Homo sapiens: one gene and its partners. The protein of the gene in region 1 purifies or fractionates together with the protein of each later gene. This does not show direct contact. Each region holds a gene or a part of one and is shown in the gene's direction. Other genes may lie near its edges.

Region 1 (3,648 bases):
TGCTTTTCCCACCTCCCGCATGCGAGGACCTTGATGTGCTGCATCCACTTGGCTGGCTGCTGTGTGCCACCGCCACCAGCAGAGTGACCCAGTGATGTTTGTCTGTTACAGATCACGGATACACGACTCTAGCCACCAGTGTGACCCTGTTAAAAGCCTCGGAAGTGGAAGAGATTCTGGATGGCAACGATGAGAAGTACAAGGCTGTGTCCATCAGCACAGAGCCCCCCACCTACCTCAGGTAATGCGTTCCTGGCCAGGGCATCTCTGGGGACACCTGTGGGGTCTTTTCTGAGACTCAAGAACTGGTTGGGTTGAAGTTAAATTGAAACACTTTTTTTTTTTTTTTTTGAGATGGAATCTTGTTCTTGTCGCCCAGGCTGGAGTGCAGTGGCACGATCTTGGCTCACTGCAACCTCTGCCTCCCAGGTTCAAGCGATTCTCCTGCCTCAACCTCCCAAGTAGCTGGGATTACAGGTGCCTGCCACTATACCTGGCTAGTTTTTTTTTCTTTGAGACAGAGTTTCACTCTTGTTGCCCAGGATGGAGTGCAATGGCGTGATCTCAGCTCACTGCAACTTCTGCCTACTGGGTTCAAGTGATTCTCCTGCCTCAGCCTCCCAGATAGCTGGGATTACAGGCATGCGCCACCACGCCCAGCTAATTTTGTATTTTTGGTAGAGACGAGTCTCTCCATGTTGGTCAGGCTGGTCTCGAAACCCCACCTCAGGTGATCCGCCCGCCTTGGCATCCCAGAGTGCTGGGATTACAGGCGTGAGCCACCGCGCCCGGTCCTGATTTTTGTATTGAAACACTTTTTAACAGTTCCCTCTGTTTTTATACATTTTCTTAGCCAGGTTTCTAAGTTTCTTCTATATCATTGGAATTTCTAAGAAACGTAAGCCAAGTCCTGGATTCCGGAGAACAGTTACAAATGCTTGGAAAGTGGGACTCGTGGGGCACAGTGGCTTATGTTTGTAATCCCAGCGCTTTGGGAGGCCGAGGCATTGCTTGAGGCCAGGAGTTTAAGACCAGCCTGGGGCAACACAGCAAGACCTCATTTCTTAAAAAAACATGTAAGTGGGACCAATTTGTCAGAAAAATCAGTGGCTCACATAAACTCACAAAAGAAACAACAATAGATTTGAATGTATAAAAACTTAGAACCTGGCTGGGCACGGTGGCTCACACCTGTAATCCCAGCAGTTTGGGAGGCCGAGGTGGGCAGATCACCTGAGGTCAGGAGTTAGAGAGCAGCCTCATCCACATGGAGAAACCCCATCTCTACTAAAAATACAAAATTAGCCAGGTGTGGTGGCACATGCCTGTAATCCCAGCTACTCGGGAGCCTGAGGCAGGAGAATTGCTTGAACCCGGGAGGTGGAGATTGCAGTGAGCTGAGGTTGCACCTTTGCACTCCAGACTGGGCAACAAGAGTGAAACTCCACCTCAAAAAAAACAAAAACAAAACAAAACTTAGAACCTTTAGAAGAGTATTTATAGTAACAATTAAAAAACCAAGTAATTGGGAAGTTACGATGTTGTATCTAGAATCTATACATCTAGATTTATACAACAAACTTGGATACCCCAACAAATAGGTAAAAGATGGTCCATACCTTGAAGTACAAGGGAGTAAACAAACATGGAAAGAATTTGCCCTCATGTGTAATTTCAAAAATTCCAAGCATAAGACTGGGCATGGTAGCTTATGCCTGTAATCTCAGCACTTTGGGAAGTCAAGGCAGGAGGATCGCTTGAGCCCACGATTTGACTGTGTTGCCCAGGAGACCAGCCTGAGCAACATAGTGAGACGTTATCTCTACTGAAAGTTAAAAAAATTAGCTGAGTGTGGTGATCACACCACTGTCCTCTAGCCTAGGTAACAGAACGACACTCTTTGTCTCTTAAAAAAAATAAAAAACAGGCCGGGCACGGTGGCTCACGCCTGTAATCCCAGCACTTTGGGAGGCCGAGGCGGGCGGATCACCTGAGGTCAGGAGTTCGAGACCAGCCTGACCAACATGGTGAAGCCTCATCTCTGCTAAACGTACAAAGTTAGCCTCGCATGGTGGTGCATGCCTGTAATCCCAGCTACTCAGGAAGGCTGAGGCAGGAGAATCACTTGGACCCGGGAGGCGGAGGTTGCGGTGAGCCGAGGTTGCGCCATTGCTCTCCAGCCTGGGCAACGAGAGTGAAACTCCATCTCAAAATAATAAAATAAAATAAAAAATAAATAAATAAAAAATAAAAATAAAAATTCCAAGCATAAAACAAAAAACTGGCAACATAAGGAATTGGGGAAGGTGTGATAGAACTGCACTCATGTGTGCTGGAGGTGCTTTTTTTTTTTTTTTTTGAGATGGAGTTTTCACTCTTGTTGCCCAGGCTGGAGTACGGTGGCATGATGTCGGCTCACTGCAACCTCCGCCTCCTGGGTTCAAGCGATTCTCTTGCCTCAGCCTCTGGAGTAGCTGGGATTACTGGAATGCACCACTATGCCTGGCTAATTTTTTTGTATTTTTATTAGAGACGGGGTTTCACCATTGTGCCCAGGCTGGTCTCGAACTCCTGACCTCAGGTAATCCTCCCGCCTCGGCCTCCCAAAGTGGTGGGATTACAGGTGTGAGCCACTGTGCCCAGCCGGGAGTGCCCTTTCTGTAAAGCATCCTGACATCAAACTTTTTTGTTCTCTGGCCCATTAATACCGCCCCTGGGAATTTGTCCCAAAGAAACATTTTCAAAGAACAAAATGAATCAGTAAACCCACTATATGTACAGAGATTCTCTGTAGCATTGTGAATAATACTGGAGAATATGGAGTCGCTTAAGTATCCAGCCTTTAAGGAAAGGCTAGGTTAGTGACGGGTCAGCCACTTGAATGGACAAAGGTGTGACCCATACATGGTATAATTAAGTAGATTCTGCAGTGACCCGAGACGGGTCCTGTGGGTGAGACGTGCAGAATACAAGATTGTACCCATCTACCTTGTGCATTCAGCTCTCAACAAAGTATGCATTTCTCTGCACAAAGCCCAAGGAGCATTAAGAAAAAGGATTATTGTTCAGAGTGATGTGGTTATGGAAAATCTTTTTTATGATTCCCCTGAAAGGTGGCACGCCTCCAGGCTGGCCAGTGTTACAGACGTGTGCTTTGCAGATTCTTTTTCCCCCAAGGGATGTGGTAAGAACATAAGGATGGCTTGGCCTTCCCAGGGAAGTTGCAGAAGGAAATTGTGTACATATGGAGGGCACTTTAATTCTGCACATGTCAGCTGGGAATCTTTTATGGGGCGATAAAACAGTTTCTTGGTGATCATGTCGTGAGGAACAGCTGCAGGAGTGGAATCCCGTTGCCCTGGAGGTCAAGTCTTTAGGGGTGGGGGCTGGCAGAGGTTTGAGGGAAGTGGCTTTGGCTGGCTCCACACTACTCAGTCAGCCCAATAAGGGGACTTATGGCACCCTCCCCATCCTGTCATCGGACAATTTGAGCAGAGGCTGGGTGCCCTCTCTCAGGGATGCTGGGATTGCAATGGAAGGAAGGTTGTTTTTCTTTTTTTTTTTTTTTTTGAGACGGAGTCTCGCTGTCGCCCAGGCTGGAGTGCAGTGGCGCAATCTCGGCTCACTGCAGGCTCCGCCCCCTGGGGT
Region 2 (3,748 bases), on another chromosome or scaffold:
AAGTGCTGGGATTACGAGCCACCACGCCCAGCCTTTTTTTTTTTTTTTTTTGAGATGAAGTCTTGCTCTGTTGCCCAGGCTGGAGAGCAGTGGTACGATCTTGGCTCACTGCAAACTCTGCCTCCCAGGTTCAAGCGATTCTTCTGCCTCAGCCTCCCATGTAGCTGGGATTACAGGCATGCCACCATGCCCGGCTGATTTTTGTTTTTTTTGTTTATTTGTTTGTTTGTTTTTGAGACAGAGTTTCATTCTTGTTGCCCAGACTAGAGTGCAATGGCACAATCTCAGCTCACCGCAACCTCTGCCTCCCGGGTTCAAGCGATTCTCCCGCCTCAGCCTCTCGAGTAGCTGGGATTATAGGCATGCACCACCATGCCCCGCTAATTTTGTATTTTTAGTAGAGACGAGGTTTCTCCATGTTGGCCAGGCTGGTCTCGAACTCCCGACTTCAGGTGATCCGCCTGCCTCAGCCTCCCAAAGTGCTGGGATTACAGGCGTGAGCCACCGTGCCTGGCCTAATTTTTGTATTTTTAGTAAAGATGGAGTTTCACCATGTTGGCCTGGCTAGTCTCGTACCCCTGACCTCAGGTGATCCGCCCGCCTCGGCCTCCCAAAGTGCTAGGATTACAGGTGTGAGCCACCGTGCCCAGCCAACACTTTACGTGTTTTTTTCTCATTTAATTTTTACTACAACCTTATAAGGGTGATGATCTTGTTATGATCCCTATTTATAGATGAGGAAACTGAGACCCAGAGAAGTAACTCAGCCAGTGAGCCAGCATCTTGGGCCTGTGTCCTCATCAGCTCTGCTTTTTTTTTTTCCTTTGAGATGGAGTCTCACTCTGTCACCTAGGCTGGAGTGCAGTGGCACGATCTTGCTCACTGCAACCTCCGCCTCCCAAGTTCAAGCAATTCTCCTGCCTCAGCCTCCTGAGTAGCTGGGATTACAGGCTGCACAACACCACACCCGGCTAATTTTTGTATTTTTAGTAGAGACGGGGTTTCATCATGTTGGTCAGGATGGTCTTGAACTCCTGACCTCGTGATCCACCTGCCTCGGCCTCCCAAAGTGCTGGGATTACAGGCTTGAGCCACCGTGCCCAGCCAGCTCTGCTTTCTTCCATGCAGTCAAACCCGTCTGATTGGCACCTCTTCCTCCTAGGCTCCCTGTCCCTGGCCTTCCCATTTCTCACCCGTTTTTGGTTCCAGCTGGTCTCTTCTAGTCACCTCCACACAGCTGCCAGAACAACTTTTTCCTTCATTTTTTAAGCTTTGCTTTTTTTTTTTTTTTTTTGAGACAAGGTCTCACTCTGTCGCCCAGGCTGGAATGCAGAGGCGTGATCACGGCTCACTGCAGCCTTGGATTCCTGGGCTCAGTCAGCCTCCTGAGTAGCTGGGACTACAGGCATGCATCACCATGCTCAGCTAATTAGTGTTGTTATTCTTTATAGAGACAGGGTCTTACTATGTTGCCCAGGCTGGTTTCAAACTCCTAGGCTCAAGCGATCCTTCTGCCTCAGCCTCCCAGAATGTGAAACCCTGTCTCTACTAAAAATACAAAAAATCAGCGGGACGTGGTGGCACATGCCTGTAATCCAGCTATTAGGGAGGCTGAGGCAGGAGAATCACTTGAACCTGGGAGGCGGAGGTTGCAGTGAGCCGAGATCGCGCCACTGCACTCCAGCCTGGGGGACACAGCGAGACTCTGTCTCAAAAACTAAAACAAACAAACACACAAAAAGAAAACCCTGATGTGGGCCTGTGGACTGGGTCTGGGTCTAGACAGTGCCAAGCAGTTGTATACCTTTGCTAATATAAAAATGGTAGCAAGCATTTATTGAGCACTTACTGTGTGCCAGCCACTGTGCTTTACCTGCATCCGCTCATCTGACCCTCACAACAGCCACATGAGGTAATTACTATCATTATCCCCATTTTACAGATGGGGAAACTGAGGCCCATGGAAATGAAGTAGCTGGCCCAAGGTCAGGATTTGAACCCAGGCAGTCCAAGCCCAGAATCTGTGGCAACTTAGCATGCATTCCCTCTGTCTCACGTGTCATACTTTCCTGTCCACCGCATCACCCTCGAGCTCCCACATCAGTGTTCCCTCCTCTGCTTCCTGGGGCACAGCCAGGTTCCTGCTCTCTCCTCTCTGCTCCCATGGCCCTCTGCCCTCTGTGACTGGGGCCTGTGACCATCTGTTTCCCCCACTGTCTGTGCTGCTGGCACAGAGTGGCTGTTCAGGGGATGTTTGTTACCTTGACGTTCCAGATCCCGGGGGCATAACTGCTGGCAGCACCGACGAACCCCCAATGCTGACCAAGGAGGAGCCTGTTCCAGAACTGCTGGAAGCTGAGGTGAGAGAGGCCAGAAGGCTGGACTCCTGGGTCTTGGAGGGAATGGGGGATCTGGGCAGTCGAAGGCTTGGAGCCTGCGTCCTGAGGGCCTGGAGGAGAGGCAGACCTGGGACAGAGCTGAAGGCTTAGGGGCTGGGTTCTTGGGACTGAAAAAGAAAGGGTGTTTCAGAGACAAAGTGCTGAGGGCTGGATCAGGGCTGATTGAGACCATTAAAAGCCTGACAAAGCTGGGCGTGGTGGCTCACGCCTGTAATCCCAGCACTTTGGGAGGCGGAGGCGGGTGGATCATGAGGTCAGGAGATCGAGACCATCCTGGCTAACACGGTGAAACCCCGTCTCTACTAAAAATACAAAAATTAGCCGGGCGTGGTGGCACGTGCCTGTAGTCCCAGCTACTCGGGAGGCTAAGGCAGGAGAATTGCTTGAACCCGGGAGGCGGAGGCTGCAGTGAGCCAGGATCGCGCCACTGTACTCCAGCCTGGGTGACAGAGCGAGACTCCTTCTCAAAAATAAATAAATAAATAAAGCCTGACAAAATCATGGCGCTCCTCCATGCATTTTCAAAAAATATCAAAAAATATCTAACTGTATAATTAGCATAAGAAAATTCCTTATAAACCTCTGACATTTCTCACGAGGCTACCTCGAGGCATTTTCAGAAATATCAAATATCAGGTTCGTTCCTCCACACAGTGTCACTGTCGTTGTTGTTTTTGGTGCCTGCTTCCTCTGCATCCTGGGCATCTGGCCCTGGGCTTGCCTCCCGGGCCCAGGAGGGGAGGGGAGTGGAGGCTTTGGAGAAGGCAGAGGCTCAGAGGCTGGACGCCTGGGTTCTGTGGAGCTCACGCCTGTCCACCCTTCCTCTCCAGGCCCCCGAAGCTTACCCTGTCTTTGAGCCAGTGCCACCTGTCCCTGAGGCAGCCCAGGGTGACACAGAGGACTCGGAGGGTGCCCCCCCACTCAAGCGCATCTGCCCAAATGCCCCTGACCCCTGAGAAGCCGGCCTGCCTGTCCTGTTGCCCCAGGGGCCCCTTTGGCTTTTTACAAATAAAGACCCTTTTGTAATTTTGTGTCATGTCATTTCCCCGTCAGGGCTGGGGAGGGTCTTTGGAGACAGTTTTGTCTCATGCACCATTGCTCAGATGTGGTCACTGAGGCTCTGAGAGGACCTTCCTGTAGTGACACCACAAGGCAGAGTGGGGTGGGGGCTTGAGCCAGGACCCTGCCTCTCAGTACTTCCCAGGTCTGTCCTATCTCCCGACCTTCACCTCCTCCTCTGGGAGGCCCAGGACCCCTCTTCCTGCTCAGCCCTCGCCTGGGCCTAACAATTATCAAAACTCTGGGTAGCTAGGCCATGATTCTTTTTTTTTTTTTTTTTTTTTTGAGAC
Region 3 (3,648 bases), on another chromosome or scaffold:
TTCTGCCCTGAAAGGTGTCCTGTGTGTTACAAGTCAATTACTTTTTTTTTTTTTTCCCAAACACAATCAAACCTTGAATGGGTTGATTTACTGGGAAGCTGGTCCAGGGCTCATGAGTAATGAATGGCTTTGGCCAATCTGCATGGAGTCCTGGCAATTTGTCATTCTTCCTCCAGCTTCTGTTACCCTGGCGCTCCTTTAGAATGATTCTTGGTTTTCATGGCCAACAGAATAGCAGGAGGTGGTGTCTGGGGTCCGAGCCCAAATCTAATTCTCTTCTGCCACTTCCTGTCTGTGAGACCCCAAGCTAGTGGTATAACCTCTCTGGGCATCCTGTTTCTGCATCTGTAAAAAGGGTGACAATCGTCCCCCTCTTGTAGCCTGTTGGGAATCCCAGGGAGAGAGGGTGTGTAAGTAGAGTGCTTGGCGTGGAGCCTGGCATGTAATAGCCTGGGCACACAGTGGCTATTGTGATGGTTGCTCTAACAACTGAGGTTCTTCCCAGGAGCACTCGGTCTCTTCTGGACACCTTCTGATTGCTCAGAATTGAGGAGGGGAAAGGTGGGCATTGTGGTTTGTCTGCTCTGCCCACAGGAGGCAGGAGACGGGCCAGTGGACTTAGACACTCGTCTTTCCTGCATCGTTTCTGGGTGAAAAGGTGCAAGGAGGAGGGAGCAGAGAGGCTGGTCTCAACAGCTGTGCTGGGTGAAGGGTTCGAGTGCTGGCTCTGGGAGAATGAGTTCACCTTCACCGCCCTGTGCCTCGGTTTCTTTATCTGTCAAATGGGGAAGTTGCCATTTCCTGCCGGATGAGCCGGCACAGTCCTTGGTACATAGAAGGCGCTAGGAATGGCCACTGGTATAATAAGAAAAGCCGGGCCGTAGCGTCCTCTGATGGAACACGTGGGACCCGAGCGGGCAGGGTTTTTGGGGGTGAGGTGTCTGTGGTTTCGGCTGGCTGGGTTTGAGTATGCTCCGTCATCCCGCAACCCCCGTGGTGACAGGGTGGGAGTCCTGTAACCTGTCACACCAGCATGTGAGGGCCACATGCCCCACGAGGGGGTGATCTAAGGCTGAGTTTGGGCAGAGAGGCCAAAAAAAGGTGCCAGGCAGCTCACGGACAGAGGTGCTCGTGCCACACAGAATTCTCAGTTCTGGGAATTTTTGTCACCAAAATTGCTGAGGACTCGGGCAGCTACGTCGCCTGTACCAGGGGTGCGCCTGCCCCAACAGTGCCTGCTGGGCCCCTTAAATCCGCCAGCCTCCTAGCTGAGCCATCAGTGGCTCCTTGGTGGCCTCGCAGGTCTCCTGATCTGGCAGAGTCTTGATTTAGGAGCCTCGGTTCCAACCCCAGCCCTGCTTCTGGGAGGCTCTCCTGAGCCTCAGTCCCCTCAGGGGTGTGGCTGCTGGGTCTTCGTGGCGGTAAGGGACAAGTCGGAGTGCAGGGGGTCAAGGACAGGAGGTGGCTGGCTGTAGCAATAATCGGAAAAATGACAGTGGCTCGGAGCAGAGTGGTGGTGGTGGAGGAGAGGGTGGGCATTGTTATCTCGAATGAAAACCAGTCCTGTTTGCTTCTGTGGCTTGTAAGTTTCTCCTCATCCATAAACCTGCCTCTCACAGTGGGGGGTCTGGACTCCGTCCTTCAGGCGTTTGTAATGCAGCTGGGGTGACCTTGCAGACAGGGTCACTAGGAGCCCTGAATCAGGGGTGCAGTTCCCCTCCCACCTGGCTGCACCCACACATTCAGGCTGTGTAACCTCCTTTCGGGCCGAGGTCACCACTCCCTGGCTCTCCTTGGCCGCCACGAAGGGCATTCTTCCGGCAGAGTGTGGGCGGCTCCCCGGCTTGCCTGCTCATGCCTCCCCTGACCTCAGACGCATCGCCCAGAGGGCAGGAGGAGCCCCGGGGTGTCCTTGGTGACGACTCCACCCCCCATGAGAGGAATCGGCCTGCTGGCCTGAAGCCCTCTCTGCTGCCCAGACAGGCGCGGGTGGCCCAGTCCACTGGCTGCGTGGCATTGGCAGTGACACAGGAGGAACCTGGGCCCGACTCGTGCCACCCATAGGAGTCCTTGTAATGGCAGCCCCACCCTCAGCCTTTTTGGCGACAGCCTGGAGAGGGCAACCACCCTATGTGGTGTAACGGGTGGAGAAACCAGGCTTAGATGGGTGATGTGGCCTGCCCAGGGCCTCCCGCTAGTGAGGGTGGAGCTGGGATTCCAACCCTCATCTGTGTGATCTGGAGCTTGCTCTCAGCCCCAAGGGAGTGTGGCCTGTGTCCCCCAGGGATGAAGAGTCCCCGGTAACAGGCTCTTCCTCATCCTCCTCAGGGAGAAGAAATGGGTGACCGTTGGTGACACATCCCTACGAATCTACAAATGGGTCCCTGTGACGGAGCCCAAGGTTGATGACGTGAGTATGGAGGGCTGGTCCCCTGGGGTGGGCCACCCATTCGTGCTCCTCCCACCATGGGGAGGGAGATTGTCCACTGCTACCCACCGTGCTGGGGCTCTGGGACCAAGAGCCCCTGGGAGTAGAAGGACCCAGATTAGACCTGGGGAGGCTGCTGTACCAGTCCCCACCCCTCCCACTCCAGCCCCAGAGTCTGGCCCTCAGAGCGGTGGACGGGGGGATCCCGCAAGCTGTGTCTTCTTCTTCTTCTTCTTCTTCTTTTTGATACAGAGTCTCACTCTGCCGCCCAGGCTGGAGTGCAGTGGTGTGATCTTGGCTCACTGCATCCTCTGCCTCGTGAGTTCAAGCGATTCTCCAGCCTCAGCCTCCCGAGTAGCTGGGATTACAGGTGCACACCACCACACCCAGCCAATTTTTTCGTATTTTTAGTAGAGACGCAGTTTCACCGTGTTGGCCAGGCTCGTCTTGAACTCCTGACCTCGGGTGATCCACCTGCCTGGGCCTCCCAAAGTGCTGGAGTTAAGGCGTGAACCAGTGCGCCCGGCCTGCAAGTTGTGTCTTCTGGGCCGAGCGCCCCCCCCAGGGCTTGGCACTGTGTTTTGGGGCAGGTGTGGTGGTGCCCACAGTTAGGCACGTTCTCCCCACCTTTGTGGTTCTGTTCCTGAGCCTCTGACCATCTGCCAGGCCCTGGGCTGATGCCTCACATGTGGCATCTCCGTTATTTTTCCTACTCAGCCTGTGGAGTTGATCTTTTTAACCTCTCCTCTGTACAAGTGAGGGCACAGGCTCAGAGAGGTGAAGCCACTTCACATGGCTCACCTCAGAGCTGTGAATGGAGCTCAGGTCTGTCTGACTCCAAAGCGCAGGTTCTCTCTGCGCTTGGAGAGGCTTCTGGTGAGTGGAGCTGCTGGTGACAGGGGTCCCCGGTGCTAGGAAAGCCTGGTGTAGGGATGCGGGGCTCCAGGAGGGCTCCAGGAGGGGTGGCGCCATCCCGACTTCCACCACTAGAGGGAATGCGAGGCGCTGTCCTGTGATGGCTGGCAACTGCCCCGAGCAGACAGTGCTCTCCCAACTTCGTGGTTCCCAGGCCAGTTACCTCCAGAGACCCCTCTCATTTCCATCCCAAATCAAGAACAGTCTGCCCCATAGGCCTTTGCCTGGGCCATTCCCCCCTGCCTGGACTGCCTTCCGTATTTACTCAAACTCAGTCCTTCTACCTGGGAAGATGGCGCAGACTA

The links.
Region 2: the proteins of SMARCB1 (region 1) and BCL7C purify together in Homo sapiens (affinity purification with mass spectrometry; 8 studies listed by BioGRID and IntAct, with this or other methods). This does not show direct contact.
Region 3: the proteins of SMARCB1 (region 1) and BCL7A purify together in Homo sapiens (affinity purification with mass spectrometry; 8 studies listed by BioGRID and IntAct, with this or other methods). This does not show direct contact.

Annotation. Positions count from the first base shown.
Region 1 is NC_000022.11:23,793,448-23,797,095, forward strand, and holds part of SMARCB1 (SWI/SNF-related matrix-associated actin-dependent regulator of chromatin subfamily B member 1), read left to right. Parts: intron 1-111; coding exon 112-241; intron 242-3,648.
Region 2 is NC_000016.10:30,887,472-30,891,219, reverse strand, and holds the end of BCL7C (B-cell CLL/lymphoma 7 protein family member C), read left to right. Parts: intron 1-2,261; exon of another isoform or gene 2,262-2,274; coding exon 2,275-2,360; exon of another isoform or gene 2,361-2,506; intron 2,507-3,229; coding exon 3,230-3,355; 3' UTR 3,356-3,425; downstream 3,426-3,748. UniProt on the Homo sapiens protein: May play an anti-apoptotic role.
Region 3 is NC_000012.12:122,028,372-122,032,019, forward strand, and holds part of BCL7A (B-cell CLL/lymphoma 7 protein family member A), read left to right. Parts: intron 1-2,328; coding exon 2,329-2,410; intron 2,411-3,648.